3 separate regions of the Homo sapiens genome follow, and regions 1 and 2 are each linked to region 3. Evidence: fine-mapped expression QTL. A gene starts in region 3. Each other region holds a variant in brackets. All regions are shown on one strand. Distances are between the middles of the regions. Region 1 has its middle 22 kb from the start of LINC02104. Region 2 has its middle 8.9 kb from the start of LINC02104. Region 3 holds the start of DAB2 (DAB adaptor protein 2).

Evidence for each region. PIP is the estimated chance that this variant, and not a neighbour inherited with it, causes the effect.
Region 1: its variant is the best candidate, but not a certain one, in a credible set for the expression of DAB2 in whole blood (INTERVAL, PIP 0.71).
Region 2: its variant is the best candidate, but not a certain one, in a credible set for the expression of DAB2 in monocytes (TOPMed, PIP 0.54).

The regions. Positions count from the first base shown.
Region 1 is chr5:39,536,409-39,547,490 of GRCh38, reverse strand. No RefSeq gene overlaps it. Among named protein-coding and RNA genes, the nearest start is that of LINC02104, 22 kb to the right of the region's middle. The variant A/C (reference allele first, on the strand shown) is at 5,532.
Region 2 is chr5:39,506,007-39,517,088 of GRCh38, reverse strand. No RefSeq gene overlaps it. Among named protein-coding and RNA genes, the nearest start is that of LINC02104, 8.9 kb to the left of the region's middle. The variant A/G (reference allele first, on the strand shown) is at 5,100.
Region 3 is chr5:39,419,468-39,430,549 of GRCh38, reverse strand. It overlaps DAB2 (DAB adaptor protein 2), which reads left to right and starts at 5,570. Exons shown (of 15, transcript NM_001343.4): 1 at 5,570-5,746.

The DNA.
Region 1 (11,082 bases), 120 kb before region 3:
GTTGCCTGTATACATGCCATATTTGTATAAAAAGCCTGCAGAGCATAAGAGTATTTCATGATACTTCGATCACCACGTAATGTAACATATCTCATACTACCTATTGCAATCCCGAAGTCTCTGATGGAAATGGTTGTCTAAAATGGGATTTCCAGGGTATATAAAAGAGCCATTATAATAGCCTCATAAAAACTTAGCTCCCTTTACCACATAAGATATGTTGATGCTGCCATCAACATATCTGTTTCACAAACATCAACTTATCTGTTTAGTACATTCTGGTTTTCAAATTGCTTGGGCCCATTTAAAAATTGAGGGGGAGGAAAGTAGGCAGGCCAAACTCTCTGCTTATTAAAACCAGTCTTTACACTTCTGATGGTTTGTTTTGAAGTCCTACATTACAGCCACACAATGTGATTCCCACCAAGTTAAGGATTAAATGACTATTAACATCTTAAGCAATTATCAAGCTCACACACCTCTTATAACTTGTTTTCTTCTAGCATCAACAAAACACTTACCTGTAGGAACTTCAGAAGTTAAAATCTGAAAAATATTGATATCTCTCATAGACATTTCTGTGGCTGCTGTATATACATTATTGTCAACTATGCCCCCTAAGTAGACTTCCAGGGAAGGCTGGCCAAAGAGAATGCTGAAGTTCAGGTGAATTGAGTCCTGGAAAAGATGGACTTCATGGGGAATTGATTGGGACATAGGGGATTCAAGAACAGAAGAGACGATTTTCAAGGAAGAATTTGAAAATCAATGATCTCTCAGACCAGGTGTATAAGCAATACAATCACCTTAAAGGCTGATATTATATGGGCTAAGGAGTTTCATTACAGCAAAGCATTTCAGATTCTCAGAGATATTATGGGGAAAAGGATATGAGAAGGCAATAAATTGTCCAGAAAATAGACTGAAACTGATAGAGGGCTGGCAGTAACAGAGTCAGCAAGCAAAGAATACAGTATGCAATATACGTCTTTTTTTTTTTTTTTTTTTTGAGATGGAGTCTCACTCTGTTGCCCAGGATGGAGTGCAATGGCACAATTTTGGCTCACTGCAACCTCCGCCTCCCAGGTTCAAGCGATTCTCCTGCTTCAGCCTCCTGAGTAACTGAGATTACAGGTGCCTGCCACCATGCCAGGCTCATTTTTGTATTATTAGTAGAGACGGGATTTCACCGTGTTGGACAGGCTGGTCTCGAACTCTTGACCTCCGGTGATCTGCCCATCTCGGCCTCCCAGTACTGGGATTACAGGTGTGAGTCATTGCACTTGGCCAGTATGCAATATATATTTATGCAGTGGAGGTAGAAGAATTGAGGGAACAGAGAGAATTCAACAGAACTCATTCAATAATAGCCGAGTCTTCCCTCAGAAGAGTTTTGAGAGAAATAATTGTTAATATCCTATAGCATCATGAAATACTTTGTATATCTGCTCTCAATAAAAAAGAGCTAACATATCAGCTATTTTCAAATATGACTAGCTTACAGTAATATCCTTTCTGATATACTTATCAGCTGGGCTGTCACTGGATACAGAAAGTTCTGAAGCATCTTGTAACTGGCTAGGTACTCATTCTGAACTGTGGCCCAAGCAGGGCTAACATGTCTCTTGGGGCTAACATGTTTGTTTCTTCTTTACACAATGAACTCTTTTTAATTAGAATAAGACTGTGCATTCTGTGTGTCCTCCAAGGGGACCCTGATCTCCAGAGACTTCATTAGAGATGTAGTGAATGAGATATTACCTGTCGGATCCAGCAATAAATCAGTAATGGAAGGTTTGCATTGATAGTAGTCTGGGGTTGAAATTGTTCTTTCTTTGCAGACGTTCAATGAATTTCAATAATTTTACATAAACATCTCATTTATTAAGCAGTATTAACTTAATCAGAAATAAGAAGGCTTTGTATTTCTAAATCATTCTTTTCCAATTATTTTATACCAACACTTCATTCTCCTCTGGCATCTAAGGTAGCTCCATAGTTTCCAGTTGCTTTCTGATATTAAGGCTTAGTCCAATTTAAAACATCAAACATTAGTTTATTCTCCCCTTCTTTCCTCTTCCACTTTACCCAGTGCAAGTAGGAACGGGCACCCTCTCTAATTAGGAGTCTGCCTCAGGTACACCATCACCTTGCATTCCCCTTGTTGTATTCCTCTTCATGGTATCGAGCTGAGAGGTAGAACAGGGAAAGGAAAGAGTGTAATGCTAGCAGGCTGCTATCATAACCTTTCCCTCTTGGTTCCTGCTGTTTTTCTGGCCAGCACAGCCTAGCTGTTGATATCATCTGCAAGGCAGGCCTTCAAATTCTAGCTCTGGGGAATAAAGGTATGAGTTTTTGGAGCTTCAGTGATTTTAAGCCAACTTTTTCAAGCCCCTGAGCTCTCACTGCTGGCCATATAGTGCATGGCCTCGTGTTGCCGGGAATCTGTCTTGGAAAGGAGGTTGAACAAGCCCAGCTACATTCAAAGTAGCATCCACTTGAACCTCAGGCATCACCTGTCTTGGCTCTGAAACTGGGTGAATCCACACTACCCCTACATCTCTTCTCTCTCCAAGACTGTTCTCCCCTGCTCCTATGATGAAGAGGTAAATCCACAAGTCCTTTTCCTCAGCAGATGTCCAATTAGGTAACTAAATTATATGACAGCCTTTGTAAATGAGTCTCTTAGAGCCTCTCAGGAGGTTTTAGGAAGAAAGACCAGGTACTCTAATTTCCCTTCCCTCCCTTGGGGAAGGCAGGGAATTTCCTCTTATCTCAAACGCACCGCATTCTAATGACCCTTGGATCTGCTCCTCTCTGTCTTGTTCCCAGTCTTATTATATAGAAGACGGAGGCTGGCAGCAGTTTGCTGCATCCATCACCTCTTAAGAAGCTTTGGCTCTGACTCTGGTGACTGTCAGTTCAGATATTAAATACTTTCCTGTCCTCAGCCTTGGTCCTAATTACCAACCTCAGAAGTCCCACTAAGAGCTTCTTACATGTGGAAGGTAAACAAAGTTCCTTGGAAGAAAAAAAAAAAAATACAGATAACATACGGATATTTAGAATAGGTATTTGGCCTCAGTTGGGCCGCTGTTAAGATTTTTTCATCATCATCCATTAATTCAACATATTTAGCAAATAAGAACTAAATGCCTACCACAAGTTGAACAAAATGATAGACTCTTATAATTCAGAGAAGAAGAAAATGTATTCCCTGCTCTCTAAATGCCATTTCCTACTGTATAGTATTTAAAATCCAGGACTGTGGATGCCAGTGTGAAGGTAGGGGCTGAGGGCAGTCAGGGCAGAGGGAGAACATACAAAGCTGGAGAAGGCAAGGTAGACTTAAAGAAGAGATGGCATTTGAAAGGGCTCTTAAAAAATGAATGGCATCGATCATCGGGCAGGAAAAAAAAATAGAGGAAATAATATCAAGTAGAGATAATAATGGCATGAGCAAAGACAAAAAGATACAAAGATTGTGAGGCAGTTAATGCCTATGCCTCTGTCAGCGGGGTGGTGAGAATATAGTGAGGGCTGGGCCTCACCAAATCAATTGATTCAAATTCCAAGCTCCTTAACTGGTAAGGAGTGAAAATTCCAATTGAAAATGGGAAATTCCAAACCGGTTAAGGAGTTTGGAATTTTTCTGTATATAAAATGGAGAATTGTTAAAGGTTTTAAAGTGAAATAATGATGCATGGAATACCATTTTAACAGTAAGTCTCAATATCAATATGAAATAGATGAGCAACTAGGGAGTTGGGAGACGACATGATCTGGAGAGCTGGTGAGTGCATGAACTCAGTATATAACAATGAGGAAGGAAGAGAAGGAACAGAGATGAGAAATCTTTAATAGTAGAATTAAATTGAGAATGACTAAGGGATTTTAAGCTTTGGTGTCTGGACGTGTAAGATATGCAGATATTCTTGCTGAGATAGGAAACACAGGAAGAACTGGCTGAGAAGAAGAGAATGAGTTCATTTGGAGATGCAATACTTTAAGGTGATGAAGAACATCTAGGAGGAGCTTCCCAGGAGTCATTTGGGCCTGGAGTTCAAAGCAGACTGGCTAAATGAGGGAACAATCAGTGAATAGAGGAGGCTTGAAGCTAGGTGAGTGCACGAGAGAATGTCCAGTTAGAGTATGTAAAGGGAGCAGGGAGCTTGGGACAGAGCACTTAAAGAACTGAAAAAGGATGGAGAGGAGGTAGTGAAGAAGCTGGAGATAAAGATATCAAGAGAAAAAAATCAGGATGGACCAGTGTCTCAAAAGCCAAGGAAAGAGGAAATGTCCAGCCCGACTGAAGCAGTTCCAGTGTGAAGTGTTAGAGAAAAGCCACATAGAATAAAAACTGAAAAAAAAAAAACTCATAAGATAAAGAAATTGGGAAGTATTTGGGTGATGCTGGATTTAACTAGACCATGCTTCTCTTGTGTTTAGATATTTGAAATGTATGTTTTAAAATAGACTTTTTGGAGAACTCTTAGCTGTCTTTTGTGTCGGAAATCTGTGTAAATGCTGATTTTTCCAAAGAACATGAAATGTGCTTATATCCTTACATTTTTCTTTAGGATAAACAAATTTTGAGCTAATAAGCAAAAAGGAAGAGACATGCACTTAAAAAAAAGCATTTACTGTACATGAAAAGGGCCATTACTAAAACAGTTGGAAGTGATAACAGCAATTTTTCTCTGTAGGAAAGGAAATAACTTAGATTCAGGAAAAGGAGCTTGCTGACAAGGCAGTCAGTCATATGTCTCCCCAAAGGAAGTTAAGAGATTGGTTTTTTAAGGTCACAGTTCAATGGAAAGTGAAGTTGATGTTCACTTGAATAAAGCTTTCTTCACTTATGCTGAGTGGATTATCAAAATAACTAACAGAAACAATAGAATGAGATGGTAATACCTCCCTCAGTCCTCCGAGCTTTTCAATGTCAAGTCAGATTATTTGCTGAAAGAGCAAGCATCTTGAAATATGATGAGAAAGTTCATATAGGATTTTTTTTTTTGCTCAACATCTTAGTCCCATATAGCTACTTAATTGTATATTTTCTTGAATAAATACATCAAGAATAAAAGATTTTCAAAAATATGTCATTCTCCTTTTGTGAAGAACTAGATCAGTGGCTCACCATATAAATGTACAGTATTAGTTCTTATATTCATAGAAAATACATTATCAAATAAAAAACGATTCTTTTATATGTTAATTCTAATAAAAAACTACTTCAGAATATGTATGGACTCAAAGATAACTCAGGAGAAAGGAGATAAGATTAATAAAGTGCTTGCTGTACTTCAGGCATATGCTGAGAATCGTGGTGATATTAATGACATAGTCTATGAGTCATGCCCAGTGACCAAGGGCTCATGTGTCCTCTCAACATTTGAAGCAGTCTTCGAAGCTACCCAAAGCCCCACTGGATGTTGATCTCATCAGAATATGGTTATCAATGATCTTTGACCCGTTGTCATCCTGAATCAAGGATAATTTCGATCTTAGAATAAATGGAGGTAAAAAGA[A/C]GTAAAAGACTTTTATCTTGAGCCCCTCACTATAGACTGGTTTCTCTCTCTTTCAAGGGCCTATCTCTCCCCTCTTTTGTTGAAAGCAGGCCTGCTCAACTATACTCAAAGCATAGGAAGCTACTTAGGTCATTTGCATATTTTTAGTATTTTATATTCCTTTGCAACCTTTGTAACTTTTACTTTCTACCCAACGTGAGAATCCCTCCTACACAGTAAGGCATTCAGGTTAAATATCTAGAGCCGAACATTACCCAGACTCAAGTTCTAATTCCTGCACTGTCATTTACAAGCTGCATACTGAGCCAAGTTGCTTGACCATTTCAAGTAAAACCGGGATGACTAAAATGCCTCTATTTGTTAGAACATTATAAAGACTAAATGTGATACTATATGTTATATACTTGGTATAGTGCTAGGAACTTAAATAGTCGTAGGGAGAAAAATTACTTGGCTAGTTTCAGTTACTCATTGTCTTCAATAACAGTCTATCCCATTTTTAAAATTTCAAAACGTCATTCAGTCTTTCCTTTTATTAAGCCAAGTCTATCTTGTTCTCCACTTTGCCCACTAATCTAAATTCTGTCCTCTGGAACACCACAAAATAAATCCAATCTCTCACATTTTTCTGTTCCATTTAGTCTGAACTATCCGCTCTTGGAAAACAAAAATGAACACGACATAGTTTCATTCTGAAATAACCTTAGACGATAGAAGAGAAAACATATGTATACACATATGTATTTGCACATGACATATATTTAGTGTTTAAGGGTGCAAAGGTTTAAGTTGTATATTCAATTATTACATAAATGGAGTACGAGTATTTCAAAGTGCAAGAATAAATGGTTAAATTAGCCAGGCGTGGTGGTGGGCGCCTGTAGTCCCAGCTACTCGGGAGGCTGAGGCAGGAGAATGGCGTGAACCCGGGAAGTGGAGCTTGCAGTGAGCCGAGATCACGCCACTGCACTCCAGCCTGGGTGACAGAGTGAGACTCCGTCTCAAAATAAAAAAAAAAAGAAAGAATAAATGGTTATTGGAACACAAAGGAAAATGTGAAGTCTAACTGTGATTGAGTGGAGGAGAAACTATACTATGCCCTTAAGGATGGGTAAGATGAAAGGGCCTCCTGGAGGAAACAGCATGTACAAAATAACCCAGGCATATTCAGAAAACCAAGGGCTTTGCAGTTTTACTAAAGCAAGCTTTCCAAATTGTGAACTGTAGGCGTAAATCTTTAGAGTTTCAAGGGATATGTTCGTCTATATATGCACCAGACATTGGGTATGGTCTGAATCGCAATAACAAAATGCCTATGGCATGACTTTTCTTAAATGTAATTTAATGCTTGTTAGTATTGATAATAAAGTCAGGCTGGGCACAGTGGCTCATGCCTGTAATCCCAGCACTTTGGGAGGCCGAAGCAGGTGGATCACCTGAGGTCAAGTGTTTGAGACCAGCCTGACCAACATGGTGAAACCCCGTCTCTACTAAAAATACGAATATATATCTGTATATATGGAACACCATGCCCAGCTCTCTCTCTCTCTCTCTCTCTCTCTATATATATATATATATGTATATGTGTATATATATATATATATCTGAGCTATATATCTATACATTGATAGCTGTACAGCAATCAATGAGATAGGAGACATTTAGAATGTACTGGTGTTTCTGAAGAAGAACACAGAAGAAACTTTCAAATAAAAGGGAACTATCGATTGTGTGCAATGATAAAGAGAATTTATGGCTGGGCACGGTGCCTGTAATCCCAGCACTTTGGGAAGCCTAGACACGAGGATCACTTGAGCCCAGTTTGAAACCAGCCTGGGCAACAAAGTGAGACCCCTGTCTCTACAAAAACTCAAAAAATTAGCCAGACGTGATGTCATGCACCTGTGGTCCCAGCTATATTGGAGGCTGAAGCAAGGGGATAGCTTGAACCCAGGAGGTCGAGCTGGGCATAGTGGCAGGCCCTTGTAATCCCAGCTACTCAGGAGGCTGAGGCAGGAGAATCGCTTGAACCCAGGAGGCAGAGGTTGCATTGAGCCAAGATCGCACCACTGCACTACAGCCTGGGCAACAAGAGCAAAACTCCATCTCAAAAAAAAAAAAAAAAAAAAAAAAGTCATAATTCTGTGTTTTCTTCATCAGTGAGTACTCAGAGTACAACCACTAACATAGATCGTCCTTCAGAGTTATTAGCATTAAAAAGGGATCTACTCAAGCGTTTGGGAGGTATCAGGTCAGAGTACAGAGGGCTAAGCAGGAGTGGGCCATTCCTTCCCCTTGGCATAGCTCCCTTCCCCTCTTATCTATTCAAGGACATTGCTCTGGCCATTTGCCCCTGTTTTAAGTTTTTCCTTACCACTACAGTTTTCTCATTATCATCCAACTACGTTGTGTTTCTTTCAGTGTGGAAAACAATTCATCTCAACATTGCTTCCATCTCCAATCAGCTGGTTTTTACTGAAAGAGAAAAAAAAAAGCCCTAGGAAAAACAAATGTGTGTATGCACAGTTTCTAATTTCTTTCTAGTATTTTCTCTGTGAGCTTTGCCTTCAAAACACATCTACTATCTGAATTCTTATCTCCATAGTTGCAGTTACCACCCTAGTCCAAGCAACTCTTATGTCGATTTTGGATCCCAGTAGCCTCCAGACTGGTCTGTCTGCTTTCATCTCCCCTTGCCCCATACTTTTTTCTCAACAGTGTATCTGGAGTGATCCTGTGAAAACATAAGTCACAGCATGTCATTCCTCTACTCCAAATCTCCTTAAGTTACCCATCTCATTCAGAGTGAAATCCTAGTCCATACAATCATTTTTCAAGACCTGCACTCTCTCCTCAAAGTCCTATCTGATGCCATCTCTTAAATCTGTCCTCTCTTCTCACTCTGTTTCAGCCATACAAGCTGTCTTTCCATGCATCAAGCTTGCCAGGTGACTCCATTCAGCTCAAATGATGATGTGACATATGCCTAATTACCTAGTAGCAAGCTTTCATTTTTTCGTATGATTGTATTGCTTGATGTACATGAAAAATTAGCGTGATCTCTAGAGTTGGTTAACAGTGGAAAATTGACTTTGTCATTTGAAAACACTGTCTAGAAACTCCATAAATAAAACACAATTATTTTTCTTTTCAAAGTATTCCAAATGACTTACTATATTTTTTTTTATCATGTGACCCCTTTTCAGCTTTCGCCCTACTTAAATTCTCTCTTTTTTCTGAGACAGTGTCTCACTCTGTCGCACACGCAGGAGTGCAATGGCATGATCTTCACTCACTCAGTCTTGACCTCCTGGGCTCAAGCGATCCTCTTGCTTCAGCCTCCAATGTAGCTGGGACCACAGGTGCATGACATCACATCTGGCTAATTTTTTGAGTTTTTGTAGAGACAGGGGTCTCACTTTGTTGCCCAGGCTGGTTTCAAACTGGGCTCAAGTGATCCTCGTGTCTAGGCTTCCCAAAGTGCTGGGATTACAGGCACTGCGCCCAGCCATAAATTCTCTTTATCATTGCACACAGTTGATAGTTCCCTTTTATTTGAAAGTTTCTTCTGTGTCCTTCTTCAGAAACACCAGTACATTCTAACTGTCCCCTATCTCACTGATTGCTGTACAGCCTCCTTCACTGGTATTCTTCCTCGGCTCCCAGCCCTCTGGCAATTCATACAATTCTATCTTTGGTCCCTGACTTTTCATACATATGAAACCTGAGAAATCTTACCCACTCACAGACTCAAATCTCCATCTATACACTGAGCGTGCCTAAATTTAGCCCAGACTTCACTCCTGAGCTCTGTTCGCCAATTGCCTTCTAGACAGCAGAATTGATAGGTTCCAAAGTCACTTCAAACTTAACATGTCCCAAATTGGACTCATTAAAATCTTTTGCAGTCAATTTTTCTAGTAAATCACATCTTCAGTGAATGCATCACCATCTCCCCAGACACCGTGCTAGAAAACTTTGAGTCCTCTCTTGCCTGTCACATCAATTTCCTTACATAGATCCTCAGGAGAAGGTGTCTTTTCCAAGACCACAGCCAGCATCTTGGAATATAAGAGGGTGGATGGCTTAATGCAAATCTATCTGTTAAACTGGAAACCTTATTTTGCATTCAACAGAGCAATCTTTTGGCACTCTAAAATGATAGATATAAATTCTGAAAAACCAGGAAAACTGGGTCTGTATTCTGGTTCCGCCTTTTGTGGTCTTAGGAAATTTAGTGAGCCTTTTTGATTCCATTTCCTCCTCATCTTTCAAATGGGGAGAATAATAATTACTTCATAAATTATTTGAAAAAATTAAATGGAAGTAAGTTAAGTTATATGCAAGCCCCCAGTGACATAATTTAATTTCCTTCATTCTTTCCTATCAAATGAAGCAATCATACTTATTCAAAGATTTTTCTGTTCAAATATTTTTGAAATGTGCCTCCTTCCCTTAAGAACAGGTTGTAGAAATGATCCAGCTGTGATTTATATTGACAAAGCAGGGGGAGTTAGCTGGAGGGTATAACTCACCTGACCCTCAAGCCATCTGACTTATTATCTGGAATGTGCAAGGAATCTTGTTAGTGAAACTGTATTACAGGATGGTGTGTTGTTTTTGTTTGTTTGTTTATGTCATGATGAGAGCTTGTTTTTGTCATTCTTATCCTAAGGTCATTGGAACTGTACTCCAAAACTAGTCAACAGAATTAAATGAATAGATCGATAGTGATTAAAAGTCTGGACTCTGGAGTAAAGCAGCCAAAATTTAAATCATCGCGCTCACTGTGTTGCCTGGGATCAATTACTTTCTTTTGCTATTTCTCAGTTATAACATAGGGTTGCTGGGAAGTTAAATAACATAATAAATGTAAAGGACATAGGAAGGAGAAACCATTTAACAAGCCATTAAAGAGCCATTGAACACAAAGTTCTTTCAGTGAGGGTTTCTGTCCTTGAGAAGCTGGAGGTTTCTGTCCTTGAGAGGGAGGAGGATGACCTAGTTTAGGGAAAATATCGGAATTATTTTAAGTGGTAATTATGACCATTGAAAGAAGACATTTAAGAGTTTTCCAATATTGATTTTAAATATTGTTCTATGTATTCTCATTCTTTATGTTATGAAGTAAAATAAAATCACGTTTCTTGTTTAGTGCATAATTCAGGTTATTTTAGAGCAAGGCAATTTCATATTAAAAGCCCAAGCAGGTTGCTAGTCTTTTTTTTTTTTTTTTTTTTAAGACGGAGTCTCACTCTGTCACCCAGGCAGTGGTGTGATCTCAGCTCACTGCAACCTCTGCCTCCTGGGTTTAAGCGATGCTTGTGCCTCAGCATCCTGAGTAGCTAGGATTACAGGCACGTGGCACTACACCCAACTAATTTTTGTATTTTTTTTTTTTAGTAGAGACAGGGTTTCACCATGTTGGCCAGGATGGTCTCGATCTCCTGACCTCGTGATCTGCTCACCTCAGCTTCCCAAAGTGCTGGGATTACAGGCGTGAGCCACCATGCTCAGCCACTAGTCTTAATGTACATTCCTGTTCCTCTCC
Region 2 (11,082 bases), 87 kb before region 3:
AAATAGTTTCAAATGTCACTAAATGTTAAAAAGAAAATAAAACAGAGTAAGGTTTTGAGTTAACAAGGTGTTGGCAACATTAATGGCCAGAGATAACCTGTTCAAGGAGGTGATATGACACTCTCTTGATACTGAATGATGAAAAGGAAGCTGTTGTTCATGATCTGAAGAGGAAGCTGTTGTTCATGATCTGAAGAGGCATTCTGGATGGAGGTGGGCATGTGTGTATTGTTTACAATAAATGTAAAGAAGGCCTGTGTGGATGGACCTGGTGGCCTGGTGGGATACGATGGAATAAGAAGTAGGGCAAGGATCAGGTGGATGCTTCCCTATTTAATTATTTCTTTCAAAATTGGAGACTGGCCAGGCACGGTGGCTCATGCCTGTAATCCCGACACTTTGGGAGGCCAAGCTAGGTGGATCACTTGAGGTCAGGAGTTCAAGACCAGCCTGGCCAACATGGTGAAACCCTGTCTCTACTAAAAATACAAAAATTAGTCAGATGTGGTGGCACTGGCCTGTAGTCCCAGCTACTTGGGAGGCTAAGACAGGAGACTCTCCTGAACCCAAGAGTTGGAGGTGGCAGTGAGCCAAGATCGTGCCACCGTACTCCAGCCTGGGCGACAAAGCAAGACCTCATCTCAAAAAAAAATAAAATAAATTGGAGACAAACATATTTGTATTTTAAAGGATTAAAAATATACATTCTCATTTGAGGGTAGGGGGAGGGAAAGTACTTTTAAGTTGTGTTTTCTTTGGTTTAGTTTCTTAAGGCTTATGTTCAGGGTAGAAATTATTTGTGTTTGGCCTCTATTCTGATTGGTGGGAGCTCATAACATATCTTTTGTTACGTATTTAGAAAATCGCTGCTTGTATCTGATATTTCATTTTCTAAGAAAAATACCAATGGATTTTTTTTTAAACCCAGAACAGGGAATGTACCCAGTGGCCTGTCAGTGAGGGAAGAAATCATAAAATGCTTATTTAGTTAGAATTTCATGCTCAACTTCCTTCCCTGTTTTTAGAAGTAATTATGTTCGGTTATTGACGGCTGTTTAGCTTTCTAGCTGAATTGCCCAAGCTTTTAAGTCACTACCTACTCAATTATGAGAACTTTGTGATCTACCATAAGGAATGCTGCTTTCTAGTATAGTGAGCAATGACATATATATTCTCAGGAATAATTTCTATACATTTCTATAAATGAGGCACATTAGACAGCAGAAATATCAACTGTATCATTTTAGATTAAAAATGAAGAGTTTTCACAGGATTATGAAATTTCAGAATTGGAAAGTGCCATTGAAGTTTACCAGTCCAAACCATCATTACAGAAATGAAGATAAACTCAAAGCAAGCCACTTTCACATAATCACTTAGATCAAAAAGACAGGATTCTAACTAAAATTCAAATTACCTAATTTTCCTGGCTTTTGCTCTTTCTATAAATAAAAACACAGGATCACATATGTTTGCTGTGTGTGAAGAAAACTGAATTCTTATAAAGAATAAAGCTTGAAAGAAAAACAAATTAAGTCATTCATTTAATTATTATTATCTAAGTACATTTTACTAAACCTTTAGCCAAGACCAAATAATCCTTATTGATCCACGCTTCCAACAACATGGGCTTCATTTTCAATGCATTTTCATATTTTAGTAGTCCTAAAATATGAAAAATAAAGACTAAATGTGTATGCTTACTTTGCAAAGGGGTTTGGAATAAATATTTAGAGGAGTTTGGAGCAAAGATTTAGAGGGGGTTGGAGTAAATATGAGTGCAGATCTCAGTTCTCAGGTCGTAATTGTAGCAGATTCACCTATTTTAAACCTGTGAAAGGCTATGGCAATTACCTACTGAAGTCTTCCATGGGGTTACAGCGCAAGGGCTTTATATCAGGATGGAGTGCTTGCTTCACCATTTACCAATTTTGTGTCTCTGTTCAAGTGACTTAAACTCATTGAGCCTCAATTTCCTCATCTGTAATAGAGAGTCATAATAGTATCTTCCTCAAAGGATTGTTGGGAGGATTAATTGAGATAATTTGGGGCACAGAATAAGCACTAAGGAAGTATTAACTGCTTTCATAATTATTGGAATTCATAGTGTGTATCAGTGAAGTAATCTTGTAAAAGGTGTTTGAGATTAAAAACACAAATAAGTCAAAGACGCTTTCAGGTAAATTCATGAGTTTTTGAAGGGATTTCAAAACTAGGACCCTACTTTTTTTTTTTTTTTTTTTTTTTTTTGCCAAACTGTGAAATGGATTTTTGAAATACAATAGGGCTAATGGGGCTAATGGTAGCGATGTAATTACCCAGGGTAATTTTATTGTGGGGCCTACGGTATCCAGCGTTTAATAGTGGATCTAAATGACACAGAAATTCAAGGTGTTCCATATCAGTCATGAACATCTACAGTGAGATGTTAGACTTTGTCGATATCTCAAAAGTGGAGTAGACAATAGACATTAATGTTTGGAACAGGTATACACACATTAAGGTGTCAAACATAGGGGAAGAGAGGAAGACAATGAATATTCATCAAATGCTTTCTATGAGCTAAGCTTTGTTGGAGTCACGTGGACATTATAGCATTTATTCTCCCAATACCCTTTGAAGAGGCTTGAGCTTCTAACCTGGTTCTATATCCAGTGAGGGCATCCAGGCATGAGAAGTAAGATAGCATTCATGAGTTTGGTCAAGTAAATCCAAAGAAAGGTTTGTGAGTGACTTTTATTTATTTATTTATTCTGAGACAAGTGGCAAACCAAAGGGCTTGCAAAGTTTCTAACTGGATGATAGCGTTGTTTCTTGGACCTGGGATTAAAGTTTTTTACCCTTCCTTCAAATGCAGCATCAGAGATGAAGCCTGGGGCTAGAAAAAGTGTCTTGCCCATAAAGGGAGGATTGAAATATAAATATGTGTTGTCCTAACTGCTGACATAACCATCACTGTTTCACATCTTTCCAACCTAGAACTTTCTTTTGTCTTCCCTGGCCACCAGGAATTGCTGTTCCCTAACATTGATTTTGGTGAGTTTTCCCTTTTCAAACCCAAGTTTTCATCTCTAGAAATACAACATGTCAAATTAGCCACTGACAAGCTTCAAACACAGCTCATTGGCTAAACAGTGGTTATTATTTATAGGCAAAATAATCAAACTCTAGCTCTGCTCCAGTGAAGAAGAATGAAGATGGGTTTAAAGGTCACAAAAGTTACAGGGAATTAACATTTAATGGCTCCTCACCATGTGGTCAGGGGAAATCTGAAGGTGAAGGTCTAAGCTATTATCACATTTCAAGAACCAGCACAACCAAGATATAATCAATCTAGTGGCTCTCCATTCTAAATGAATGTTAAACAGAAATAGTTCTATTACTATACCAACAGGATAATTAGAACACTAGCCAGTATTTATTGAGCACTTAACATAGGCCAGCCCTGTATTGGCACTTTATATTTGATTCTCTTATGAGTCTATGAAGTAGGTATTATCATTTCTGTTTGCAGTAAGGAGGCTGAAGCTTAAAGATGATGTTATATAACTTCTGCAAGTTCACATAGCGGCAGTGTGGGTCATAAAGGCCAACTGGAACTGAGGGTGGGACTTGGGCATAACTTATCAGTGGATCTAATTCCCTCTTTATGAGTCAGATATTTAAACTTCTGCAAAAGGCCTATTGTTCCAGCAGCTGGGACAACACACACTTATATTTCTATCTTCCTTTTGTGTTCTAGGGAACTCAAAATAGGGAGGTAGATTGTATAGCACACAGTATAAAAAACTAGTATTTTATAGTGAACATAAACTTTATGATACAGCTGAGTCAGACTTAATTCCCCCTCAACCCGATAAAATGCCTCTGCCTCAAACATTCTAATTCACCTTGAAAACATCAGTGCTTATGAATCCTTCAACCATGAATTTACCTGAAACCTTCCTCAACTTATTTGTATTTTCAGTCTCAGCCATCTATTGGAAGATTACACATGATACAAATTCCAATGATAAAAAAAGTAATCAATACTTCTTTAGTGCTTATTCTGTGCCCAGAATTACCTCAATTAATCCTCACAACAATCTTGAGAGGAAGGTACTATTAGTACTCTCTATTAGAGATGAGGAAATTGAGGTTTAGTGAAGTTAAGTCGCTTGACCAAGGACACAAAATTAGTAAATGGTGAAGCTGGGTCTCAGTCTACCTCTGAGTCCACAAGGCACACTCTAAACCCTGATACTTAAAGTGTGGTCTGTGGACCAGTAGCATGGCATCATCTGAGAACTTGTTAGAAATGCACAATCCTAGGACTCACATAGACAAACTAAATGCAAATTTGTATTTTAACAAGATCTGCAGGTGCTGAGGATACACATTGAAGTGTATCCTTGACTGGGGGTAGGGTGACCAGTTGTCCCAGATCACTGAGGACTGAGGGTTGTTTGGGATATGGGACTTTCAGTGTGAAAACCAGACAAGTACTGGGCAGGACTACTGTGCTGTGCTCTCTCTGCAGGGGTCAGTGAGTATTTTTTGCTTTCAGTTAGCGCATCCTATGCTCTGTTTCAACCTGCCTCACAGTTACAGAAGTTTGTTGGATGTATCTTCAGAGATACTGTGGATGGGAACCACCACTGACAAAAGATGAATTCTAAGCTCCCAATTCCGTGGGAGTGAACAATGTCTATATCTGGGTTTCTAATACTTGGTGTTGGACCTAAGCTATGATAGGGAGGATGTGTTTTCCCTTTCACAGATCTTCCTAACTCCATTATAATCCCAAATCAACACATGATAATTGCAAATAAGAGCATTCCTGCTCAGTGTCTTATGGGTTTATTTATTCAGTTCTTGGGTTGGTTTTTTTAAAGTTTCAGTAAAATCCAGATATGTAGAAAAAAGAACCCTCATTATTTTCATATTATTTCCGTAAGGAAAAATTTAATCCATATGTTTATAATTCATTCAAACGTCATCATGTTATTGCTTTTTCAAAACTATTAAGCCTTAAGCCATTGCTACTGATTTCTTCTCATGAAATAGAATTTGGAGATTTTGTAACCTAAATCATAGTCCAAAAGAGGGAGCTTATCTTC[A/G]GCAAAGATAGCCTATGGGTTCTTCATGTGAGTTTTAGAATGCTTCTTTGTCCTATGGGGGAAAAATTTGTCTATTTTACACAACTCTATTTACATATAGAAAAATACAAAACATTTTAGTATATGGAACAAGATCATTTTCCTATTTGGCTTTAATTTACTTTGTGGGGAATGAGAAGGTCTTGGAATTGCTCTCAGATGTTAATGTCCTGTGAGAGACCACTAAAACTTTCAGTGGCCAAGACTAAATCTCCCTGTCAATTTCATTATTTCTCCTCTGAAATTTTGAACCATTGCTTACACTCCTATTTGGCACTAGCTCTACCTATATTTCATTGCTATTTATTCTGAGGCCTTTATCGTGCCTCTCAACCCCACTAAGAAATTTTAATAACAGCACTGTCCTTTATTCATCTATTCAGCAAACATTTACTGAACTCCAGCAATGTGTTAGGTCTTGCATGGAGTAGAATTGAAATGTCATTGGTACCTTAAGTAGCTATTAATCTGTTAGATAAAACTCAGAAAAATAAGCACACTATAGTATAGATCAGGTTAAGTGTCATTACAGATATGCATTAAAAGAATGTGGAAATTCAAAAGTCCCACAGAGTTCTTCTTACTGGAAGGATCATGGAAGAATATTAGGAAAAGGATCATATTTTGAATTTGTCTTCTACAGAGATCTACAGAGAGGCAAGCCACATACAAAAAGTCCCAGGGCAGGAAAAGAATAAGACATGCAATAAGTATAAAACATGTCCAATGTGGCTGGAGTGTATGAAGAAGAACTAGGAGAGATGAGGTTTTAAAGGAATTATTTTCTTTTTTTAAATTATACTTTAAGTTCTGGGGTACATGTGCAAAATGTGCAGTTTTGTTACATAGGTATACATGTGCCATGGTGGTTTGCTGCACCCATCAACCTGTCACCCACATTAGGTATTTCCCCTAATGCTATCCCTCCCCTGGTCCTCCACCCCCGTCAGGCCCCGGTGTGTGATGTTCCCCTCCCTGTGTCCATGTGTTCTCGAGATTTTAAAGGAATTTGTAACCTGATCATGTGGGTTAGGATGTAATTCAGACAGGAGATCATTGAAGGTTTCTGAACAAGGAATTGTCATAGTGTGGCAAAACTGTTCATCTAGCAGAAATAACCAGGAAGGGCTGAAGCAGGAAGATAAACTGACCGTGCAAAACTTATTTGAAGACCATTAAAATAGACCCAGGAGAAGCAATGAAACCTGCATTAGAATCTTTTTCTCTCACCTTTCATCGTTGGCCTTTCCTTTTCTCAGACACATTTGCCTGTGATTCATCCATCTGACCTACAGTACCTTTGAAGGAATCATGTTTGATTTTTGCTTTTCTTTCACAAAGAGTCTTCAAATGATTTGTCAGGAAGTACACAATAGGGTACGTAATATGGTTTGGCTGTGTCCCCACCCAAGCCTTGTCTTGAATTGTAGCTCCCATAATCCCCATGTGTCATGGGAGGGACCCACTGGGACATAATTGAATTATGAGGGTGGGTTTTTCTCATGCTGTTCTCATGATAGTGTATAAGTCTCACAAGATCTGGTGGTTTTATAAAAAGCAGTTCCCCTGCCCACGCCCTCTTGCCTGCCACCATGTAAGATATGACATTTCTCCTCCTTTGCCTTCTGCCATGATTTTGAGGCCTCCCCAGCCATGTGGAACTCTGAGTCCATTAAACCTCTTTCCTTTGTAAATTACCCAGTCTCAGGTATGTCTTTATTAGCAGCATGAGAACAGACTAATACAGTAGGTTTAATAGAACACACAGAAAGTATTGTTTTGAAAACTATCATTTTAAAAAAAATTAGCAACTTTCCTTTATAAAGGACATATCACACCACATGTGGTGTCTGTGTGCTCTCTTTCATTCTCAAAACAGTCCCATGAGAAAAGTATTATTATTTCCATTTTACTGATGTGCAAACTGTAGCTTAAATAGGCTCATTTCATGCATTCTCTAAGGATATTATGCGAATGTTGTTTTCTGCAGGAAGAATCCAGAATTCTCTCATTCTGAAAGAGTTTATAACCTTTCTCTATTCTTAGTTCTAGTTTTTAGTCAGAATGAAGTAATAATCTTTTGGTGTCCATTAATCTGGAGGAAACCCCAACTAGAAGAGCTGTGAAGGAAAAACAAGGAGCCAAGATTGGGTTGGCAACCTTAGGGCATAAGGTTCCAGGTGACAGTGGATGGAAATGGGGCAGAAAATTGGAACGGTTGATGACATTGTCCATATTTCATTTAAATTACTCCTTATAATGCAATTGCAGATGTTGTAGGAACATAAAGATATTGCATCTGAGGCCTTTAAAGCAAGTGTTCTCAACTGAATAAAATTCATTTGACTAAATGGGAGAACTGAGGTAAAGTACAACATGCTCAGTATAGACAAATAATCTTTGAGCTTCTGTTGTCACCTGTTCCTGCCATCAAGCCTCCCTTAGAATGGCCACCACTGTGAGTCCAGCAGCCAGCAGGTTTCTGAACTGCATGCAAAATCAAGAAAACAAAATATTCCTTCTTTTTGAACTGACTATAGCCATGGAGTACGCTGTGAAACCAGATCAGTTTGAATAATGAAAGCATGAAATCACTCCCCATTTTTCACAGGAAAGACTGGAATATTTAATAGAAACCAGGCAGGAGCTGGATATATGAATCCATTTCATCAAAATGTGCCTTTAACTAGAACTTTGTTGGAAAGAATTGTGGATTCTTCTTGGAGGCTCTAAATATTCCTGTGGCATCCTCAAAAATAGAGGAAGGCTAAAGATTAGTGCCCAGTGAGGTCGAAGAGCCCGTTAACCTTTTGCTCATGGCTAGACTCTATTCCAGGGTTTTTTCTCCTGCTATAGTCTCTAACTCACACACACTACATTCCAGTTGTATGTATGAAGATGATACCACATTTCAAAAAGTCTCTTTTCTTAGAGGTGGACTAATTACATAATATGGTGCAATAAACTGCCATATTCATCATGGTTTTCCACTTCACAGAACTGGAAGCCAAGCAACAGAGGAAAAGCTTCCTTAAGTTTTTAATGGGGTGGAAAATTTTGACTGTAGAGAAAATCTGACTATAAACAATTTATTCAGTATCCATCCATCCATTTTTTTTTCCCACAAATAGGTGTTACATACATGGCAGTCTGCAAAATGCTATGGGGAAACTTTTCAAAAGTAATTATTTATAATTAAAAAGAACACTTATATGACACATTCAAAAAAATGTGAACAATACTTTTGGATATCAAAACAGAAATGACCTAAACCATGAAAATCCAATCCTAGGTTGGGTTTAGTGAAATTTGTATTCACAAGATGAGGATGATAATAATCACAGGATATGCTCATAGCATTTCATTAGTGTATGTGGTCATGTCATTTCCAAGTGCTGGATGTGGAATAAATCGTCCACTTGACTCTTAAAATGTTATGTCTCAGGTGTAATTAGTTATGTATCTTTTGCCCATGGCTCTCACTCCATGGTCATTGCCCAGATGCTTACCCAGGCCATTGTGGAGGGTGGGGAGTCACTGGAATCATGGGAGCCCTTGCTCTTAATCCTTGTTTTTTTTCAGTACAGTCACCCTACCTGAGGGTCTACTACATTTGGGAGAATAGCAGCTCTCTCTTTCTCTAGTCCCCATCATCTGTCCACCTTCCTGTAGTGAGACCACTCCTCTTTAAAGCCTCAGGAACCTTTTCCATGTTAGAGAGGGCAGTTTTAACACCTCTAGAGGTTAACACTTAGAAAAATGAAGAAAAAATGACTTTTCCCCTGAGTCAAGAGAAATCCCGACTCATGAATTCAAAGGTTCATCTTTTCCCTTAAGAGGAAGCTGGAAACAGATCTCCCATTTTTTTCTGTATCACAGATAATTATATTTGCAGACATTATCCGTATCTATATACTTCTCTATACACCATATAAATATATATATATCTTTATATCATCATCTGTCTCTCTCTCTCTTTCTACCTATATCACAGATAATTTCTTAATGGATAATTTGACATATTGAGTTGTCAGTACGTTGTCTTGATATGTTAATTTTTCTCCTACTAGCCACACTATTCCCTCGGAAATATTACAAAAATCAAAGACATTTGAGACTGTAAAGAACCTCAGAGTTGACTTATTTCTTAAGCTTCACATTTTTAGCACAACATTCATAATTTTTATTATATTCACATAACATGGTCTATGATTTTCTTGATATATTTCTTTAAATCAACTCATTTATTTTGCTAAAATATATTAAAAATAAATTTGCATAAATGAAATAGTACTAACAAAATATTGTGTGAAAATGAATACAATTTTTAAAAAGCATTATTTATCAGTCATAGCTTCTACAGTATGCAAAGACCCTGAGTCTGAAACAGCTAGTGGCTGCATCCCTTTGTGACCAGAAAGAGAATTTAAAAGGAAATAACTTTCTTACCATGTGATTTAATCTTATTTAATTCAGGGTCTATGTGTTACCTTAAAAAAAAAATCACATCTCATGCTTTGAGAAACACTGATCTAGCTTATTCCCTTCAATTTACTAATAGAGAATTGAGCCCTGGAAATTGGGTTTAGACACCTTGTTCCTGGTAGAGAGGAGACTAGTCTTTGGGTCTCTTGACTTTGAGTTTTATGCACTTACCCACCACAGCCTTGCCTAGAGTTATTATATATCCTTCCATAAGTCTGTGCCCCACCGCTCTCACTGGATTGCAAGGTCACTGAGGTCAGGAGCTATGACAATGCTCTTTGCATACTGCCCTGCACATGGTGTTTTCCCCTCATTAAGAAGTGAAGTTTGGTTTGATGTGAAATGCCAGTGGTACATCACCAAGAAACGTTTGTGAGGAAATCTGAATTGTCCCTCTGTTGCCTCCAGATTAGGATAGATGGGGCCATCCTTGCCAAACATTATGCAAGAGTGCTTGGGTGTCTGAGGCGTAGTCTCTGCCATCAGAAAAGTCCAGGTAGTGACAGGCAGGATGGGCCACCGAACAGGGGGAAGAGTTTCATAGGCACAACTCTAAGAAAGGCAAGAAATGCAATAGCAGTGCTTTTTACACAGAATCAAAGGAGCACAGGTAAATAACCATTATGAGAACAAACACAGATGAGGAGTTGAAGAGAAGTTTGGGGGAAAGTGAAGGAAAGGAAGAAGAAGAGTTGGAGGTAAAACACATTTGTTCAGCACACTAGGACTGCTGAGAGAGGGCTTCTATGCAGCTGATGGAGGGCCAGCTAAGCTCAAACTAAAACCATGGAGGAACCTCTGCTGTAAAGTTCAGATTAAGAGTATAATATCAACATTCAGAGCTACTCAAAACAAGGTAAATCAGTAGGAATGACTTCCAAAATCTGTGTCTATCCTATATAGCTGGCTTGCTACATTGGTTTGCAGTCTCCGTCTCTGGCCTGCTTCACACAGCTGTCCTGAGGTCATGGTGGTGTCCTGATGATTTGTTATAGGAGAGACTCTGGAACGCCATGTGAGAAGCTTGCAGGGATGAACCATCCAAGCCTGCAGCCAATGGAGAACAAGTTACAGAGCAGCCTCCGCCCAGCAGATGAGGTGGATCCAGCCGTGCAGCCAGAACTGACAACAAATTTCCTTTTGTCCCATATAGGAACTTTTCTTTGCTTCTTAACTTGCCTTAAGGCCAATTTATTTGTATGAACTTATGTTTCCGAGAAAAGTTGTTCCTTGGGTAATATTCATCTACAATTTCCCTTCATTACTATTTTACTGTAAACAGGAGAGAATTCAGGGCAGCTGCTTTGGCAGAATCTATTACTACTGTGTTTTTATGAAAATCTAGCAGCTTTTCACCCCCGCCCCCCCCGATTTTAGCTCCTTTCAGCTTCCCACCCCTACACCCCTACCACCCATTCCTACGCTTCTCTTTCTCTGGACTTGCCTTATTTCTTTTGGA
Region 3 (11,082 bases):
ATGCAATGGAATTTAACCTTGTTTTATGCTATGGGGTCCTTTGATCATCCAGGGAAATCTATAGTGCACCTCTCCAGAAAATGCATATACGAACAGGCACACAGACGCTTGTGTGAAGCGTGTGCATGTACATGTGCTTCACACTCATTAGGGAGTTAAATCATCCTGGAGTCCAGACACAGCTTCCCTCCATTCTCTAATGAAGACGTGACCTTGAGCATGAGCATTAAACGAGTACAGCAAATGGTATTCCTTCTTCATTCACAAGTGACCATTCCATTTTAAAACTGAGGCTATTCAATCAGTCCAGAAACCTAAGCACATCACATGCGCATGGTTGGAATGGAGCAGAAGTGTTTAGGGACCGAATCGAATGTCTGTGAATGGTTAGACCTGTTTTCTTTGTCTTTTTATTTTTATTTTTATTTTTATTTTTTTTTGAGACGGAGTCTTGCTCTGTCACCCCAGGCTGGAGTGCATTGGTGCGATTTCCACTCACTGCAACCTCCGCCTCCTGGGTTCAAGCAATTCTTCTGCCTCAGCCTCCTGAGTGGCTGGGACTATAGGTGTGCGCCACCACGCCTGGCTAATTTTTGTGTGTGTTTTTTTTAATAGAGACGCGGTTTCACCATTTCTCTCAGGAGAAAAGCAGCATCTCTGAAAGTGTGGTCCCCAAGACCACTGCATCAGAATGACCTGGAAGTGCTGATTAAAACACAGATTCCGGGCGGGCGGCGGTGGCTCACGCCTGTAATTCCAGCACTTTGGGAGGCCGAGGCGGGCAGATGACGAGGTCAGGAAATCAAGACCATCCTGGCTAACACGGTGAAACCCCGTATCTACTAAAAATACAAAAAATTAGCTGGGCGTGGTGGCGGGTGCCTGCAGTCCCAGCTACTCGGGAGGCTGAGGCAGGAGAATGGCGTGAACCCGGGAGGCAGAGCTTGAGTGAGCCGAGATCGCGTGACTGCACTCCAGCCTGGTGACAGAGCGAGACTCCGTCTCAAAAAAAAAAAACAAAAAACAAAAAACAAAAAACAGATTCCCTGGTACCCCCACCACAGACCTTTCCAGAGAAGTCTCTGAGGCTGAGCCCAGGAATTTACTCTAGTAGCCAACTTCCGGGATGACTGTCGTAAATACTACAATTTGAGAACTATTGCTCTGGAGGCTGAATTAAGCAATGAGCATACTGATGAATACTCACTTTTGAAAAGCCTAAAGGTAGACCTCCATGAAAACTATTCGTAGGATTTCCTTTCTTCCTTTCCTTATCTTAAAATGATATAATCTTTTTGAAAAAAAACCCACAAACCTGCGTGTATATCATTTCACTTCAATGCATAAATGTGACCTATACCTGCATAAAGACTATTTTCAGTTTTTTCCTTTTTGCATGGCTCCCACCCCTTTTCTCTGCCCTTGTCTCCACCAGGCCCCTAGTAATCTGTACTGCAACCTCCTTGATAATCCTTCATATATACCCACAAACATATATACCCAAATATATATAAATAGGTGTTGCTTTTTATATTACTAAAATAGAAACATCTTTTCCATGCTTTTCTGTACCTTGCTTTTCTCACTCAAAAAAACCTAAAGGAATATTCCCATGTCACAAAATTTGACTCTAATTTATTCCTTTGAATGGTTACATATGACTTCACAGTATGGATAAGTCATAACATACTCAGTCATTCTCCATTGACAGGCATATTTTGTCCTAGCTTCCTGCTGCTATAAATGATACAATTAACAACCTTGGGGGCAGGGAGTGGTGGCTCATGCCTGTAATCCCGGCAATTTGGGAGGCCGAGGCGGGTGGATCATGAGACCAGCCTGGCTAAGATGGTGAAACCCCGTCTCTACTAAAAATACAAATACAAAAATTAACTGGGCATGGTGGTGGGCACCTGTAATCCCAGCTACTCGGGAGGCTGAGGCAGAGAATTGCTTGAACCCGGGAGGCGGAGGTTGCACTGAGCCGAGATCTTGCCACTGCACTCTAGCCTGGGCCACAGAGCAAGACTCCATCTCAGAAAAATAAAAAAAAAAAAATCCTTGCATATTATACATGTGCTTTATTTCTAGTGGATAGATTCTTACTCCTAGGATAGAGAAGTGTATGTGTTTGCTACAATAACAATTAATATTAGTAATTCCTGCAGGGTTTTATGTATTTTCATTTTTGATAACTCCTGCTAGGTTTCTTTCCAAGTAAGACAGTATTTATTTGAATGGTAATTTTTATGGGTATTTACTTGCCTTTCACAATTTCTCATTATAAAAATTTATATTGATAAGTGAGGTGTAATTAGTTATATACATTTATATTATTGAATTTTAAATGTTCTTCATTTTACAAGTACCAATTTTTCCAAGTACCCTAGTAGTCTACCACCTGAGTTTCATTAAAATTGCACAAAACAGAAAAATACATATTAGTTCTGAGATGCTATAGGGGTATAAGCAAGAAAACAAAACACAAACAGGCTGCCTTCTATGAAACTATCTTCCAAATATTTTAGATCAGAAGATGGACAGGTAGATGGATAGACAGAGATATGAAAAAAAACCTCCAGTATTTGTTTTGACTTGCCAGCCACCAAATCTGGTAGGGTCAGTTTTTCTGTAATGTTAAATATGCAGGACTGGTCAAGGTCAAAGAACATTTTCTGGGAACAATAGCCATTCTCTTCATTGTTTTTTTAATGACATGGAGAAGGAAAAAAAAAAAAGGAGAGAGAGAGAGATGTGACCTTACTAGGTCCACTTCAACAAATCCTTGTTTGATTTTAACATCTCTAAGTGTCCAGCAAGGCATCAAAGGCACACAGGCAGTTTACCTTACAGCCAGTTCCAAAGTGCCATTTACAATTCAGGAGAAATGACAGGCTTCAAAAGGGGCAGTTTAAGGAAGACAAGAGCAGTAGAGAGGGGGATAGAAGAAGTGATGGAGAAGGAGGAGAGAAAGGATAAAGGATTAGGTCTGTGAGCTAACAGAGGAAAACAGCTTAATTATGGAAGAAAAGACACATGCATAGGATAGGTCGAACAGGCAGAGTTGCTGTGGAAGCACATTCCAGGAAAATCTTAAGAGATTACTTTAATAATAAACCATGCATTCTTCAGCAAGCCATCACGGGATTAACTACCCCTTTCCTAGGCTGGGAGCACAGTCATTTGTTTTATTTTATTTTTTCCTTCTCTCTCACAGGCAGGTTTTCTGCAACGGACAATTGCCATTCAAAGACTATTGTTTTTCAAACATTGAACTGACTTTTCCTCCCCTTAATTTTCTAAACATAAATTTCAGTGGTGATAAGAAAAGACCATTATTTAGGCAGGGTAAATATCTGGGTGGGCTTTGGCGTGATTCTCCAGAGGGAAAGATGTTCATTTTAGACTTGTTGAAAAGTGAACAACTTAGATGAGACAGAGACAATGTTTCACGAGGGATAAAAAGAGTTAAATTTCTTTTCTTTTTTTTTCTTAATGTGAGCAGGACATTGAATTACTGCCAGAAGCAATATCGGTGCCCTAGAGATATAAAAATACAGTTCAAACCAGAATTCTCCACTGTCGACTCTTCAGATTTCTGTGCAAAATAAGAGGTGTCTATTTTAAGTTGTAAGTGTGAGCCCACTGCTCTTAAATGAACTGTTTTCATCAAAGTCTTCTCTTGAAACTACAACTCATAGCAGATGAAATCATTTTCTTCCTCTGGCTTCTTAGACAAATCCCTTCCATTTGGTGGGGTAGAGCAAACATAAGTTAGTATTTCTTGGTAAGAGTCTTTCAAAAAAAAAAAAAATAGAATTGAGTGAGCACTTCTTAGTCTAGAAAATATTACATATTGAGGTTAAAAGAGACACCCATGTCTTTCTAATTATCAAAGTCTCTATTTGCCTGAAGTCAGCAGCCCTTTTTCCAGCTACCTAGCCAATAGAAATGAAACTGGACTTCTAGATTTTAGAAACAAAGCCTTGTGTTCTAAAATGTACTAGAATTACATTTCTCTGCATAAATGTTATAAATAGAATACTATCCTAGGACTAAAATTTGTATACTTCCTGTCATTCACACAAAGTCATTTTTTAAAATAGCAAATTACCTCTGAGGAATATTGAAAACTGCCAGCATGGCCCTCCCTGCCTCCACACCCCTAGGTGTGTCAGGGGATGAGAAATAGTAGAGGCTGGGGAAGTAGAATTCTGGGCCAGCTGTGCTGCTCTGCACCCCTCAGTCTCCCCGAACAACGGTTGTTTCAAGCCTGACCTACTTGAGAGCAGACATTGCCACTCACATTGAGCTACCCCAAATTACACAGTGGCTTTGCAGTCGAGGCTAGGCACGGACCACAAAATATATCCTTGATGTCCCACGAGCCCTATTTGAACCCTCAGTTTCCAGAGGTAAAATGCAAATCCACTGTGTTGCTTACTCGATAAAATCAATAACCCCCTCCCATCCGAGATACAATTTAGCATTTTCACATTTACTACGTGCTGCCTCTGACTTTAAACAATTAAATTTTTTTCTTAAAAAAAGGGAAAAGAGACACGTCTTTCACAAGAGTAATTTCAGAATTCTCCAAAAAGCAACAGAGCTTCTGTGGATGTTTTACAATAATTCTTGATTTTAAAATATGGAGAAAATGAATTCTCAGCTTGTTAACACTCATTAGGATTTGCTGCGGAGTACCTTCTACCGCTCAGCACTCTACGTTAACATTTTTAAATATTTTATTTCTTGCAGTTCATGTTTTTCCTAGAGTTATAGGAAGTGCTATGGAAATTCATGCAGATAAAGTCATGTTATGTGTCTACATATAGGTGTATATACACTGTAAGGGAAGCCTGTATAGAATCTCTGATTGTATCAGAATTATAACTTATTTGATAGGCTACATAGACGTGAACATGTTTTGCTCATATCGATTTCAGAGAGAATATTATTTTTATATCCATATATATGATTATATTTCATAGGTAAATACAGTATGTTTCACATATGCACACATAGATTTCCCACTAACTTAAGCGCATTTGCATCTGCAATGAGGGAGACACTAATTTCTTCTAAGGGGAGCAAATCCAATCGCGCGATCAACTTTAGAAACTGCAGATCTGCGCAGGAACCGTTGTCCCTTGTCAGAAAAGTCAGGAGTAAAGGCAGTCCTTTGTTCAAAGGGCCCCAACGGGTTGGTTAGGATGACTCCGTGTGCCACATCACTCGCAGTGGCAATCCAGGGAACGGATCTGTGAAACGAAGCTCGGTGGATCCCACCCCTTTCCTCCAGAGCTTCCCTTTCCTGTCCTTATTTGCACCCGCCCCCCGCCCGCGTCGGTCTGGGGCTTTTGACTTCTCCCCGAACACATTTCCCCTCCCGTCGCTGGGTCCCTGCGATCGCCCCCAGCTGGTGGGGCTCGCGGAGCTCAGGGGAGCGGGGTCCTCTGCGCCGCTGCAGCGCGAGTTAATAAACAGTTAAGTTTGGAAGACTCTGCAGACACGTTGAGGGGGAGTTACCAAGCCCAGGCAGCAAAAACATCCTGGCACATTCCTGGGGAGTCCTCAGCTGCCAGCATCTGATTAGAACCATATCTCTCGCCGGGAGTGGCCGCGCGGCTCCGAAGCTCCCGGCCGGCGGCTATTTAAGCGAGGCCCGCCGCATCCGCTGCGCTGTAGCCTGGAGGCTCCGGGCGCGGGGAAGTCATGCTCGCTTCACGGAGGCAATAGCTAGCCGGTGAGTAGCTTCGAAACCCTTCTTCCCTCTGGCTCCATTTTTTTTTTAAAGATCTCCTTCTCTCCTTTGCTCCCCCTCTCTCACCCCCCCGCCCCCCGCTACCCTTCTTTGAGTACAGACCTTGGGCTGTGGGGAATCTTAGAAATGAGACCCTGTGCTTGGGGAAACCAGCAGTTTTGTGGCCTGACATCTGAGGAATGCTTCCGCGGAATGTATTTACCTTTCGAATCCGACTCCAGATGCCCAGCTTGTGACATTTAACAAACGCCTCCTTTTGTGTCGTGTGTGTGTGTGTGTGTGTGTGTGTGTGTGTGTGTGTGTGTGTGTGTGTGTAAAAGGTCTGCGGGCAGCCCTCCTAGGACACTGAGGTGGCTGCTGACCGCCTAATTAACTCCTCGAAGGGTGTTTATTTTTGCTGTGTGACAAAGGCTGGGGACCTGGCTTGTGCCCATAAGGAGCTTTTTCCTGGTGACTGACAACATATGGCATTAAAATGTGAACTTTTGTCTTACACCGGCATTCCTAAGGAAGTATCTACCCAAGGGACTTAAGAAACTTGTTTTATATCCCCCGGCGCAGGGAGCATGGTTTATATGGTGCTTGCCTGCCTGTTGTAAGCTGGTTAAAAAGATTAAGTAAGAATTCTAAAAAAGGGGGGAAAAATGAATGGGTTAAAACCGTGGAGCCTCAGTCAACATAGCGGTTTTCATAGCATAGAGCTGACTCTGTTATTTGTTTCTGCTGTCTTTCCCTCTTGACTTAATTCTGAGCCTGGAATTCTGGTCCGCAGACAGTTTCAGCAGGGAGCTGAGTCCAAAGGGAAATTCAACTGGATTAAAAACACTTAAGGAATCTGGGTGTTATCTCCACCCCAACCACCCCCCACCTTTTCCCCTTTCTTTTTAGTTTTTGTTTGGAAGGAAGAGAGCCGCTCTGTAAACCGAGAAGAGCAGAAACAAGCTTCCAGACACATGGAAAGACTTAAAAATTATGGAGGGGCGACTTCACGAATAGTAAATGTTGCTATTGCTCTATAAAGTGACTTCATGAAAAAATTTCTGGCCTTAGTCAGGCAAAGCAGGGGCATGGGGGAGAAGGAGGTAAGATATAACTAATGCAAACAGAAGTAATGGGAGTGGAAAGCAGGCATCTACAAAAAATGCCTTTGAGATGTCTGATAAGCCTCTTGGAATGGCTTTGATGAGATGTATACTTGATTGTCCTTACAGTCTTGAGGTTGGCTTCTCACACAAAAGCACCTACTGGCTGTTGGGGAGGAGGGAGCTTGCAGCTACCAAATGGCTTGTCACCATGCTTCTTACCCCAGCAGCCAGACTTTGGGAGGCTACTTTTCTCTGAGCCAGGTGCCCCGCCCACTCCAGGTTCTGTGTCTCCCCTCTTGGAAGGGAGATGGCCCTCAGTGACACTGTAAGAAAGTTTATTGCCTTGAGAATTCGGGAGTATTTGAGTACAATGGGAAAGTCTTCTAGAGAAAGCATGAAGAAGACCTAGTGGTCTTTGCCAATGTGGATTTCTGGGACAGACCACTTCTTCCAAATCCTTAGTCAGTTTCCTCCTAAGGCCAACTAAATTCTTTTTCCTGTTGTTGGTGAATAACTTCCCCCTTCTTTTCCCACTCCCAGCTGGAAGGATCCCTTCTCATCCAAATGACTGACCTAGAAACCAGTCATTTTTCAGCTATGCCCTCCTATGCTTTAATGTATAACCAGAATAAGTAGATGGTAGAGGAATGTCTTCCAACTTTGAGCCCATACACGTATGTATTTGCCATTCTGGGGATCTTTGATCTTGATGGTTGATCTTTACCTGAGGATGTAAGTGAGGGAAGAAAGCACTTGTTACAAACCTTGTCTAATTTGTGAAGGGCAAACTCCAGAGTTTGTGTTTCTGCTAAAGACTTTTATAGTTTCAGATTAAACTGGAAGTCCAAATTCCTGTGCATTAGGCCTGTTTGTTGTCTTTCTCCAAAGGTTGAATGGATTTCACTGGCCTTGTTTGGGTTGAAGGGTACGGCTTTTAAGGCACTTGTTGGCATGAAGGTAGTACAGGGACCTCTGGCAGCTGCTGACCAGCTGTTTGGGGATGATATTTACTGGCCTGCTCAACCAGGCCTCGATTATCTGAAGGTTAAGGGAGCAGGAAGATATCTTCCTTGCTGAGTGCTCCTGGCCAAGCAGGAGGCTTTGCTGTGACATAGGCTCTTATGCTGCTTCATTTCTAACTCTACCCTCATATGTCCATAAACCTAAGTTTGCTACCACTGATATTTCATCTGGATAATTTTGAAGGCTCTGCGTGTTTCTCTTCCTCATTCTTTTGACCTGAGGATTTAATTATTGCTCTTCTTAAAGACAAAGCCAAGATGCTGAAATGCTTGGGAAAGCTGCTGAGAGTGAGCCCTCCTGGGGTTTGAAGTTGTCCTAATGCTCATCAGAACATACCTCCCCAGCTGGAAAGATTCGAAAGCTTACTGGCCAGGAAGGTTTAGGTAACTAACCAAACACATAAGGTTTTTTACCCTTTAGACAGAACCAGAATGGGAACCAGATTGGCAATATGAAACACCTGAGTAACAGGATGTGGTATTTTAAAATTCTCCCTGGCACTGCTATGTAATTCCAAAGTTGAAGCTGTGCCGCTGAATTGCACAAAGGTTGGCCAAAATCATATTTAGGTGAAACAGATTTTTGTTTTGTTTTGTTTTGTTTTGTTTGAGACAGAGTCTCCCTCTGTTGCCCATGCTGGAGTACACTGGCATGAACTTGACCCACTGCAGCCTCTGCCTCCTGGGTTCAAGAGATTCTGTGACCTCAGTCTCCTGATTAGTTGGGATTAGAGGTACCCGCCACCATACCTGGATAATATTTTTTTTTTTTTTTTGTAGTAGTAGTAGAGACGGGGTTTCACCATGTTGGCCAGGCTGGTCTCGAACTCCTGACCTCAAGTGATCCACCCACCTCGGCCTCCCAAAGTGCTGGAATTACAGGCATGAGCCCACCACACCCGGCCAGATGAATCAGATTTAACACCAGATATGTGTCTTTAAAGGAGACCCAACTCATAATATCAGCATATCCTGACTGGATTAACTGGTGGAAATCAGAAGGAAAGCAGACTCCTCAGTCTTTACTTAAAGACAGAAAACAAGCAAATTCCTGGTTAGGGGAACAAATGATGACTGGTACGGACACAGAGGGCTAACATTCAACACTGGCTGCCTCCAACAGGGCACAATTGGATAGTAGTTGAGAACTACCTTCTGAAGTACCATTTCCTGGGTTCAAATCTTAGCTACAGGGTTGCAGGTTACATGGCCTTGGGCACATTCCATAACCTCTCTGTACTTCAGCTTGCTTATCTGGGGAGAATAATAGTACCTACCCCAGGATTGCTGGGAAGACAGCTAATCTAATATACTTGGAATACTTTTTCCCATCTGATTTTGAAGGTTTTGTTTGTTTGTTATTACTCCCCCCTGAACAACTGAATTAAGTGTCTTTGTGAAAACTGAAAGCAAATGGAAAATTTCTTCATGAAAATTGAATACCCTTCACCTACTTGAAAAAGGTTAATTATTCAAGCACTTGATTTTAATAAAGCCAGTGCGTTTGCTTGTGCTCATGCTAGAACAGACAGGGAGTTACTCTCTGTTTTCGTCCTGGAAGCCTGCACTTTGGTTTGGTCAGGCTGACCTCGCTGGTCTCAATTAAGTCCTCCCCACACCCTCTCAGACTCCTGACAGAGAAGGAGCAATCCTTCCCCCTGAAGTCAGCATTGTCACAGAAGGAAGTGGGAAGGGAGGGACCACCCGGATTAAACTGAATGACTAGGCTAGAAATAAAAATTCTTCCGAGTGTGTGCAGGCCCCATACTATCCTTGCCCACATAGCTGGGCAGGTTGCCATGGTTACTCCCCTTCCCGCATCCTTCTACCCTGGAAGGAAGCCTGCCTCTCTAGGGGAAGTAGAATCTGAACAAATTGCTTCCTGGTCTAAAAATGGAAGTTACTAAGTGAAGTAGAATCTCCTCTCTACTTATATCACCCCCTCCAAACTTATTTTAATCCCAATACTTAATTTTCTAACCTTCCTAGTTCTTGCATCATCTAGATAGCAAAACATGAAAGCTTATGAAATTTCTGGAACCTAAAAGTTACTACCTCAATATAGAAGCAGCCTGGCAAGTTTTCCCTACTACATTTGTACTAGCTAGCTAGGGGCAAGTGATTTTTAACTAAGTCAACTGGTAAAAATTCTAAGTGAATGGGGCAGGCTGAGTGAGTGTTACGTTGAAGGTAAACAATGTATGAGGGCTGTCACTTAGATTTTCAGGTAACCATAGAGTAAAGGGAGCAGGTAAATAGGAAGTAACAATCCTAGAATGCTGGATTTGAAGCACCTTTCAACCTAGAAGAAATCTGGATGAGGGAAATATGGTTTAATGTTGTCTCTTGGTAAAAAACTACCCTATTGCTACCTAGCAATATGATGCAAAATGTTAGTCCCAAAAAGACTTTGATCTTTATATGAAAGATGAGCTGCCATACACAAGTTTGCATTTGACAAATTAATTCAGTCTTTCAAAATTGGACATTTAGCTTGATGTGTATTTCACAGCTTGAGGGAACTCATCTAAGACAATAGTTCTCAGAGCTGATTCCCAAACCAGCAGCATCAACATCAGCTGGGGACCTGTCAGAACTGCAAACTCTGGAAGTAGGGCCCATCCAGCTGTATCTAAACTAGCTCTCCACCACGTGATCCAAGAGTAACTTTCATAATTCAGTGGTTTTAGGATTCACTTCTTCAGTGGAAATCATAACAAAGTATTTGAATTCCTTCAGTCATGGAGATAATAAAGCAAAAGCCTTTAAACACAGTGCAGTTTAACTGAATCTTAGGATGCAGAAAGATTAAAAAGCATGGGATTTGGATATTTTTCCCATATACCAAGTATGACTTTCTTGATCCTAGGAAATCCAATATACTTTTGGTTTGATATTATCACCTCACTTCCAAATCTTTTCCCCTCTGCTGGGGTTTTTAAAGAGTATAATTAATCTTCATTTATTAGGAGACTGTCCCACTTACTTCTTTTAAAAAGGATTCCAGTAAACTAGATCATTACCCTTGAACCAGATGGTTTTCTCTAACCTATAAAACTTTTTATTTTGTTTTTATGCCATGTCTAGAAGTGCAGATGAAGTCCTCTCCATAAATGAGTCTACTTCATTTAGTTTTTGTAAAGTTTAATGGCTAACGAAGCACTGCTCCTTTCTCCCATTCGACTTTCACTTTAAGTAACTTGAAATAGAA